Regions from separate parts of the Homo sapiens genome. Here region 2 is linked to region 1. Evidence: fine-mapped expression QTL. Tissue or cell type: atrial appendage. Region 1 holds a variant in brackets; the other region holds the start of a gene. All regions are shown on one strand. Distances are between the middles of the regions.

Region 1 (5,381 bases):
TTCTCATCATAAGAAATAAATCATGATTTGGTTAAATTTTATGGCCACAATTTCCTTTATATAATGCTCTCATCTTAAAATAGTGAACATTTGCTCATTTCCTTTCTTTGCCTAAAATAGTATGTAGTTATTGGTATTTTTAATCCTAAATTACATACAATCACTGAAAAGGAAAAATATTAATACCTTAAATTCTCATTATTTTAGGAGCTAATGATTGTGCTACCCCTGACAAAAAGGCAAAAAATAAAATAATGGTGGCAAAAATTATAGCCAGTGAAGACTAACAAAGCATAACATAAAGGGCTTAACGCACAGATATTAAAACAGTGTTCCTTTTTACCTTTGAAATCAGCTACAAGCAGTCTTCATTTGAGAGAGTTTTTCAAGGTTAAGGACAGTCATTGCCATTTCTAACAGGTTGCTCAGATGTTGAGTAATTTCAGCTTTATTTCCCACAGCCACTTTCAATTTTCTCACTAGAAGTAACAAATGGGTTCTTTGTAGTGAAGGAAAGCCAAGCCCAGGGCAATGGGACAGGAAGATCAAGTTTAAGGAGGCTGCCAGTGCCACATGGCTGTTTCCACCATATGAACTCTCAAACTGCACGGTGCTATTATTGGCCACATTTCCAAATTCTTTCTGCATGCTCAACTTCTTCCTGGACCCTGCATGTTTCATCCAGCCAAATTCCCAAATTCTTGCTTCCCATTAAATTTCTCCTACAAAAACGTTGTTTTTGCCACTTCTTACAAGGCGTGGTGGCTGAAAAACAGGCCTAGAGCCAGGATGCCTGGATTTAAACCTTAGTTCAGCTACTTACCTGGAAAGGCTGTCAGCCCTCTACATCTCAGTTTTCTCATTCCTCAGTTAATACTGGCAGCATCCTCATAGGTCTTATAGAGGTTATTCAATGAGTAAATACACGTGAAGTTCTTTGAGTAGTGCCTGGCACATCATGAGCACCACATAAGCATGTGTTTTTGCTAAATACACTTATTCTTGTGCATTTTATGCCCATATTTCACCCTCTTCCTTTATTAATTTTTTCTAGTACTCCTTGTAAAAATCTTCTATTTCTTCTACCTTCTGACAGAATGTTTCTCCATGGTTTTGCTGTAACTGAAAGCTCTCTTTTCTTAGCTAACACAACTTCCAACCCACATCCTAAATAGGCTTTGTGATATTAATCAATATTAGAGAAATCTAGGATCTACAGTAGTGTTATGAAAATTTGAGCAGAAATGCCTTAAGGCTGAGCATGGATTGTCCATTGTGCCATTATTCCTACCATTGAATTCTGCATAGTAGAGCATCTCTGTAGAACTTAAGTTTGCTTCCACCGATCGGTTCTTCCAAATTCAGAGTCATTATTCAAGTGGTTTCCAGTGAGTTATAAGCAACATCCCTTTAGAAAGACCCTTTCTCATTTGGGCTCTGTTCCTGCCAAGGATCCTCAGGAATTAGACTGGTGGGTCCTCGGTATATTTTATCAGTTCATCTTTTCCTAATTGAGCACAAGGATATGGGAGAGAAGTAACAAAACAGCATATCTTTTTTTCTTACTTAAAAAGAGTTGAGGCATTTTGTTCGGCATACTGAGTAGAACCAACTTGAAGGATATATTAATTCATACTTCTTTTACATTCAAATTAATGTCTCAAGCCACTCTCCTTCCAGCTCACAGGCAATCCAGTATTTCTACTTTGGAGCCTCCAAGAATTAATCGAGAATTATGGATGCTTGCTAAGTGTTTATAGAGAACATTGCTTCTCTTGTGTTGGTGCAGACATTTTAAAACTCAGAGTTATTATTTCATTAAGATTGGAAACCCCATAACTGCCTCTGAAACATCTACTTTAGAAGTGGTTGCTTTTTTTTTAAATCGCTACCATAAAGGAAGGCCTCAGGGATTCTCTGCTCATAGTGATACCAGTTTTGGAGAAGTCGACTCTTGATAGAAATAGTTGTACAGCTTATGTGCCGGGGATCGAGTCTACTGCCCCACTGCCACCAGTGTTAGTGTAAATCTCAAGCTAACCTCTCCATGTCATGTTCAGGTTGAGGTTACTCTATGATTGTGATCATAAATCTTCAGGCTTGGGTTACACTCGTAGGCTCTTGTCACTGCAAAGCATTGTGTATCTGGGTATAAAAAGATTTTTTTCTTCAGTCACACTGTGTACCATACTCAGCCCTCTACCAGCATTGGTCCATACCCCTCTTCATATGGGGGAAACATATTTAGGTTGTTTCTTAAATTGTGCCAACCAGGTTACCACAGTCCCTTCACGTGTGAGGTTATATTTAGAGTCTTTCTTACTTTTTTATTAGAAATAATGCTGGAATGAACATCTTTTTACATATATATTGCATATTTGCCCGATTATTATGTTAGAATAAAATTTTAGAACCCCTATGATTGAAGCAAAGATTAAATATTTCTAAAGACTGTGGCACATATTTCCAAAGGACTTTTAGATTTGTTGTATATTTCGCCCTTTTGCCAATGTGTTGGAAGAAACATAATTTACACCAACTCATTAATTGCATCTTAAAAGCCTCTTGCAGTTTTCAAAGAAAGCCTTTGCACATGCTTTAATTTTC[A/G]TATCAGTCTTGTGAAGCTGTCAATATTATTTCCATCTTACCTATAATAACAATGAAACAGCAGATTTAACTAACATGATTAAGATCAAACAGGTAATACTTGGCTGAGGCGCTATTTGAATTTGAATAATATGGAATACCTTTGTGTATTTATTCATCCTCTTTTTCTGTATGCATTTGTTGAGCACCAGTAATGTGTCAGGCACTGTGCAGGGAGCGGGGTGTGTGCCACTTAGGTGGAAGGTAAGCTCTCTGACACCACAGAACTTACATTTTAGGAGGAATGAAGACATTAACAATATTTGCATATTTATAAATAAGAAATATTGAGACTGTGATAAGTACATATTGGAGGTATCTGAGAAAATATAATGGGGAGATTGTAACCTAGTGAGAGCAGTCAGCAAGGCACAAGAAACATGGCATGCCAAAGGGACTACAGAACACCACTATAGCCAGAGGTAGAGAGTGAGAAGCTGCATGGCATGAGATGAAGCTGGAGAAGTAGAGACCAGGCTGTGCAGAGCTCACTGGCCCCACGCTTCCCCATTTCTCAGTGCTGGAGAATCAGTTTTGTTTGTTTCAATTTTCTTGGCACAATACTTACATAAAATAAGGTAAATAATACGTCACTAAAAACCAAACAAATTTTAAAGTACATAAAATACAAGCTCCAAGTATATGTTTAGTTTATAGACATAAAACTACTCTGTGAAATCACTATCAAAATGTCTAGACGCTTGCTCTTGGTTTCTGTTCTGATCTCCCTGCAGAGCATTAACAGTCCAGGAAACCAGGCTGCAGAAGGCACATCAGGCAGCACGGCTCTAGGCCACGACTATGGCTAAGAGCAATAAAAGGAAGCACCTGGTTAAAATTATCGGGAGTGTGTTTTGAGATGATCACTCTGGCTGCCAGGGGGAGAAAAGTGGATTTGGGTGGATGAATTAGGAAGTGAATTCATAGGACAGAGAGTGATGATGATAGCGTGTGCCAATGTTGTAGGTGAGATTTCAAAAATAGCCCCCTAAGATAGCCCACCCTAATCTTTAGAATCTATGAATATTAGATATTGTACCACTGATTATGTTATGTTATACGCACAGTTGACCTTAAGGTAGGAAAATTAGCTGGATGTGTCTGGCTCTAATCACTTGAGTCCTGAAAATTGCTTAGAGAGCTTTCTCCAGCTGGTTGTGGGAGGAGAAGTCAGAGAGATTGCGAGCAGAAGAAAAATTCACTGCACCATTGCTGACTTGAAGTTTGAGGGTACTCCGTGATGAAGAATGTGCACAGGTGGCCTCAAGAAGCAAGGAGCAGTCCTCCGCTGACAGCCAGCAAGGAAATGGGGACTTTGATGCTAAAACTGCAAGAAGCTAAATTCTAGCAATAACAGGAATGATCTTGTAAAGGGACTCCAAGCTCCAGATGACAATGCAGCTGGCTGACACTTTGATTTCAGCCTGAGCAGAGAACCTAGCCACACCCTGCTAAACTTCTAATCTTCAGCACTGTGACCTAATATTATGGGTGTTGTTTTAAGCGGCTGAGTTTGTGTTGATTTGTTATACAGCAATAGAAAACCAATACAGCCAGAATGGTGCCAATGGAGATTATAAAGAAGAGGATAGATGGATTTTGGCAATAATTTAGTAAGTAAAATTCATGTGAGATAGTGATTTGATATAAGAGATAAAGAAGAAGTGTTGAAGATGACTCCTAAATGTCTGGTTTATATGACTAGATGGACGATGGTTCCATTTACTGAGATGATAGAACATACCAGAAGAGGATCAAGTTAAAAGGGAAAAAAGATTATGATTTAATTTTTTTTTGGCCTGATTTGTTTTGAAGTGACTGTGATCCATCTGAGAAGAGCTGTCAGCTGTCAGCCAAGCGGTTATATTTATAGACCTAGAACTCAACAAGAGGTATGGGCTAGGAATGAAAATGTGTGAGTTATCTGTATAGAAGTGCTGATTAGAGCCCTGGGTGAGGTTAACACAGAGTAAGTAGAAAGTGCATTTAGCACAGAGCATGAGGCTGTAAATACCTCAGAGAAGAGGAAAAGCCTGGAAAGATAGGGATTCCTGAGAAGTTGGGGCAAAGCCAGGGGAGTGTTAGATCAAGGAACTTGGATTAGTTCCTAATGCTGCTGTAACAAATTACTACCAATTCGGTGCTCTAACAAAACATAAGTTTATTATCTCCCAGTTCTGACAGTCAAAAATCTGGCACAGATCTCACCAAGTAAAATCACATTGGTAGGCTGCATTTCTTTCTAGAAGCGCTAGGTAGAACTGATTCCTTTGCTTTCTCCAGCTTCTACAGGCTACTGGCATTCTTGGCTCAAGGCCTCTTCCTCCATCTTCAAAGCCAGCAACATCAGGTCAAGTTCTTTTCATCCTTCCATCTCTCTGCTTCTTTCTCCTGCACCTCCTTCTTCCACTTTTGAGGCCCTTTGTCATTACATTGGGCCCTCCTGGATAATACAAGATTTTAAGATCATCTGATTAGCAAACTTAATTTTATGTTATCTTAACTCCCCTTTTCCATATAACATAACATAGTCACAGGTCCTAGGGACTAGGACGTGGACATCTTTTGTCGTCATAACTCTGCTTACTACAGAGGCTAAGGATTTATCTACACAATGTGTAATATAATAATCTTGAAGAGAGCTGGTTGTATGAATGGTAAAGGCAGAAGTAATAAATAGTTCAGCAGGTATAGAGTGCAGTGGGAGTGAAGTCAGAATGGAGTGACTATGAAAA
Region 2 (5,381 bases), 190 kb before region 1:
ATACATGATTTGTCTACACCATTAAAAATTTTAATTTTCTTTTTGCATCCCAATCCCTATGGCTTTCAATTAAGTCTTATAGAAAAGGAATGGTGTTTCTTGTATACAATGAAATAGAGGATTGAATCAACTCATGTACAGGAGTTAATTTACATGATTAAGAATGCTAATAAAATACCCGAAATTACTACACTGATTTGTGGATTAAGAAGGCTAATAAAATACCGGAAATTACTACACTGATTTGTGGAAATTGGTGAATAAAAAGTCAGGTTCAAAAAGCTTAGTTTGCTGCAGCTGATATTAAGCCTATATTAACATTTTGATAGGCCACTACAAGATACAGAGCAATATCATCAGAGTTGCTTTGCTCTTTATAAGGTCATTTTATAGTACTGAGACAGAAATAATTGTAATAAATTACTGGCACAATGTGTTTCTAGTAATTTAGAAAATGTTCCGGTATTTGAATAGAAATATAATCAGGATTCAGGCGCAGCTATATTGGTCTGTAAAACCGGATTAAAGCAATCAATCTGTTATCAAAAATCTCTGTCGGAAGATTATTAGGACCACCCAATTCACCGTTTCAATTCTAATGACCATTTGCCCTAGACAGTAGAATAGATAGGTGGAGAAAGTGAGCTTCCAATTTACATGACTTTCCAAACACCTTAATGCCTTTGCGTAAACATCACTGGCAATTTTTTTTAAGTTAAAAAATCGGCAAAATGGAAAGACAGCGGTGGTCCTTTGACCCTGTTCCGCTGGGGCAGGGATCGGGAGGGTGGGGATTGAGACTTCACTTAAGAGCTGCTTCAAGGAGTGCACAGAAACCACAGCGGGCCTTTTCTGAACCATTTGCTATCCCCGCAGCGAAGGGACGCTTAAGGAGGAAGTGCCTGTGGAGCTGAGAAAGCGTTATTTCATCGCGGAATACAAATAATTCAGGTCTCTAGATGGCAGCCTTCAATGCCTTTGGAAAGCAGTCTCTCTCCTCCTCCGCCACCCCCACCTCCCCTCCCACCGCATCTCGGCTCCTTGGCAATGTAGTATCACTCCATGTGTGCCCTGGCCAGTGGATATTGGGTTTTGCTGCTCTCCAAGAATCCGAACTTAAAGTGTTTATTCTAGGGCCTGGTGCTCTGCTCTGGAAGCTACCTACCTACCTGCTTGGGGAAAAGAGGGAGTAGGGATGGCACGAAGAGCCACGCTAAGCCGCTGCCCAGGAGAGGTGGGGCTGCGCCGCAGCCAGGACACCCTCTCCCTGGGAGCAACAGCATCCTTGGCTCCCGGCGCGAGCGCTCCGCGCCCAGCGAGCGCAAAGAGCGCAAAGGCCACCTGCCCGGCTGGGGGAGCAGGCCCAGCACCACCGCCCCGATTTACCCAGACATTTATGGGAAAGACATAAAAATCTCAGGTTCTTAATTTCGCAAAGGACTGAGTTAGAAGGAGTGTGGAACAGGGGCAAAAAAGAGACAGGAGAAAGAAACACACCCCGAAAAACACGTTACTCGCACCCGGCAGCGCCTGGGGTGGCGTCCGTGACCTACCCCGGTGTGGGGGACGAGCAAAACCAAAGGTGTTAAAGAAGGAACTCGCAGACTGGCAGGGGGTGTGGGGACGGTGGAGGACTGTGGGACTGCAGGGGACCTAGGTGTTTTCTGCCCTGTCTTAAGATCTCGCTTTGGGGGCAGTCTAGGTGTCGGTCGGGGGTGAGGGACAATCTTCCCCACCCCAGCAGCCCCAGACACCCGCCCAGGTCAAGGTGGAAGGAAAGCGGGGGTACTTTGCCCTAGCCCGGTTCCCTCCTGTTTTAGACCTTGGAATCTGTCTCTCCACAAGGTGTGAAACCTCTCCAAGCTGTGTCCGCGGAAAGTCCGGCTCCTGGCTCCACCTAGGGCAGAGCAGACCTCCGTCCCTGGGCCTTAGAGGCGGGCACGGGGCTGACCCCCAACCCGTGCCACTCCAGCGCACAGGCCCCACTCAGCATCGCGCCCTGTGGGGCAGTTGACAGGGTCCCCTGTAGCTCCAGCGAGGCTGGGCCGGACTTATTTACAAGTGCAGTGACCCCTGTCTCCTCGCTGGGAGCCCCGTGCAAACCGAAGCGCTCTGGGGCAAGTTGGTGAGCGACTCACAACGCGGAACGGAGTTTGATCGACATGGTATTGGGCATAGAAAGAAGCGGGTCTTACCTTGGTACCGAGAGCAGGGAGTTGCCATCCATTGTTGGTGGGCGCCCAGAGAAGAAAGACGGAAAGTGCAGGCGAAGGATAAGTCTGTGGTGCTAGGACCCAGCTCCCAGAGTGCCAGACTGGCGCGCGCCAGGAGAGAGGCGCGCAGGCTGGGGCGGCGGCGGCGCCCACGGAGACTAGCTCCTCCCTGGCCAGCAAGCTCTGTGCGCTGCGACCGCCCGCTGTCCCCTCCCGCCGTCCTCTCTGATCTTGCAGGAGCGCGTGGCCAACGCTCCCACCTTTCTGCCTGGCTCCTGCCTCCTGCAGGCGGGCCCCAGTCTCAGTTGCTCGAGGATCCTGCTCTATCGCTCATTCGTGCCCAGAAGCATAGGTGACTCCGACAAAATTCCTCTCTCCCCAACCACCATCGTCTCCCCTCCCTTTCTCGCTGGCGTACAGTAGGTCTGAGCCCTGAAGTTGTTCACGCACTTTCCCACATTCACGCCCTCACTCCTGGCAATGCCGACACTCCCCACTGGTTGCGCGCCACTCCTCTGGCTTCCTGTGTCGATTTCATTTTTGTTTGTGGTCTACCATGTTATGGTCGATCACTCAGAACGATGCTGGCTTTGACCTCCTAAGTCTTTTCCCTTTATTTGGACTTTCTCTCTTGGTTTTGGTTTTCACGTTTCTTTAACTCATTTTGCTTAACTGTGACTTAGTCTTCTCTCTCTTCTGTTAGAACCGTGTGCGCACATAGAAATCTCAAAACCTATGAGAGCGGCCATCCATCCGAGGACAGCACTCAGAACCTGGGAGGGAGAGCTGTCACAAACTTCCCCAGTTGACGGCTGGGTATCTCCCTGAGCAAAAAGGACAGTTTTCTTAAGAAGAAAGACACTGATAGTAGCAAATATCTGCTAAAATGAGGGCGCTGTTGAATCTGCTTCTTTTTCCAATTAAAAAACAAATTAAAAATAAAATTTGGGACTTCCACAAATGGGAAGGTTGAGCCAATGTACTTTTAGCTATTCCTCCTAGTAAGTACAACGAAATCCCCCGGATATTATCTCTGAAACAGGCATGAGAAAAAGGTGGACAGAAGAATGCAGACCAGCTAGAGATCCTGGGACTCAAGGCTTGGCATGATGATGGGTTCCTGAGGTTCTCCCAGACTTTGGCTGAAGAAGATGACAACCCGGAAATGTCAAGGGGCAGAGACAGGAAAAGCCTTGACAAAGGACTCCTCTTTCTAGCCAAAGGATCAGGAGAGAGGCAGCTTAGCAAGATGGAAAATTTACACACAATAATAGCTCCACTGTGGCCAAACACCATGAGAAAAAACCTGTGGACCTTTTTCAACTACACCATCAAAGGCCAAGTAGGGAGCCTACATTTCACCATCTGTAGGCTCTAAGGATGTAAGTCAGTCCCCTGGGCGAGGTGGTGTCAGAGGAGACTAAGTAGGGACCAGGACTTTCATCCCCTCCAAACACTGGCCGCACTCACCTCTTCATGTCTCGTTTCCCCCGTCATGGTGCCAAGAAGAGCTTGAACTTCCACATCCACACAGAAATAATGAAGTCCCCTTCCCATTCCACACATACAGGTGGCATTAAGGCAAAGTAGGGAGCCAGGACTTTTTAAAAAATATTTTTTATTTCCATAGATTTTTGGGGAGCAGGTGGTATTTGGTTACTTAAGTTCTTTAGTGGTGATTTGTGAGGTTTTGGTGCACCCATTACCTGAGCAGTATACCCTGAACCCAATTTGCAGTCTTTTATCACTTACCCCCTTCCCACACTTTCCCCTGAGTCCCCAAAGTCTATTGTAGCATTCTTATGCCTTTGCATCCTCACAGCTTAGCTCCCACTTACGAGCGAGAACATATGTTTGGTTTTCCATTCCTGAGTTACTTCACAAAGAATAATAGTCTCGTGTTCCATCCAAATTGCTAAAAATGCCATTAATTCATTCCTTTTTATGACTGAGTAGTATTCCATCATATATATGTATAGCAGAATTTCTTTATCCACTCGTTGATTGATGGGCATTTGGGCTGGTTCCATGGGATCCAGGACTTTTAATCCTAACAAGGAGTAGCAGCACCGCTTCTTCACCTTGGTATCAGTGGAGCTTGTACTTTCACATCCACAGAGCAGTAATCGGCACCCCCCCCCCCCCGCCCCGCCCCACTTCCACTCTACACTGAAGCAGTGTCAGAGGAATTGTTGTGGAGAGTCAAAAACCATAGTTCAGAAGTAATAAGGCCCTGTGTGTGTCCCCTGCCCCCCACTCCCAATCACAGAAGGCCACATGGGAAGCAGGAACTGGGTACTCCTACCACTCTTAGCCAGAGAGATATCAGTGCAGGCCTAGTGAGGACCCTGAACTCCCACCCACCCTTGCTTCACAGTAATGAATGCCACTACCTGTTTTTCAAGTGTCAACAAAAGCCAAGTGAGGAGCCCAGACTTCTAACCCCACTTGGTAGTGATGAGGCAGTGCTGCCCTTATTTTCCTTGCCTTACAGGAGAAGTGTCAAGAGAATCCGTCTAAAACAGCTCTTTAAATAAAATTCAGAATGTTCTAACATAATGCCCCAAATAAGCAGCCTTTAATAGAAAATTATTTGTCATATTAAGAATCAGATCTGAATGAGAATCAACACAAAACAAAACAATCAATTGATACTAAATAACATGGAAATGACAGGGATGTTAAATGTATCTGTCAAAAGATTTTAAAGCAGCCATGATAAAAATAATTTAATAAGTAATATAAAAAAAATAGAAAGTCAGCCCCTAAAATATCTAAGCAAATATAAGTAGAAGATGTAAAGAAAAACTAAGTGGAGATTTTAGAAGTGAAAAATACAGTAACCAAAATAAAACACAAACTGTTTTATTAGTTGGAGAGAAACATCACTTTACCCATAAGGGAAATATAGTTCAAAAACAGTGGATTTCCCACTAGAAGCCATGGAGGACTGAAGTAATTGACAACATTTTTCAGGTGTGGAGGAAGACAACTATGAACACAGAATCTTATGTCTAATAAAAATACTCATTAGAAATGAAGATGAAAATGGTATAGAATTCCAGCAGAGCTCTCCTAAAAGAATGATTAAAGGAAATTCTCTAGACACCAATGAAACTGTCTTTACAGTTTCAGGCATCTTAGAATATCAGGAAAGAAGAAAACAGT

Which allele goes with the higher level. Positions count from the first base shown, and alleles are read on the strand shown. Sizes are in standard deviations (SD) of each study's normalised expression.
In carriers of allele A in region 1, the expression in atrial appendage of the gene that starts at base 2,316 in region 2 tends to be lower than with G alone (small effect, 0.32 SD a copy in GTEx).

What was found. PIP is the estimated chance that this variant, and not a neighbour inherited with it, causes the effect.
Region 2: SPHKAP starts here. The variant in region 1 is the best candidate, but not a certain one, in a credible set for the expression of SPHKAP in atrial appendage (GTEx, PIP 0.61).

The regions. Positions count from the first base shown.
Region 1 is chr2:228,374,326-228,379,706 of GRCh38, forward strand. No RefSeq gene overlaps it. Among named protein-coding and RNA genes, the nearest start is that of SPHKAP, 200 kb to the left of the region's middle. The variant A/G (reference allele first, on the strand shown) is at 2,608.
Region 2 is chr2:228,179,372-228,184,752 of GRCh38, forward strand. SPHKAP (SPHK1 interactor, AKAP domain containing) reads right to left here and starts at 2,316. Exons shown (of 12, transcript NM_001142644.2): 1 at 2,196-2,316. The coding sequence starts at 2,227.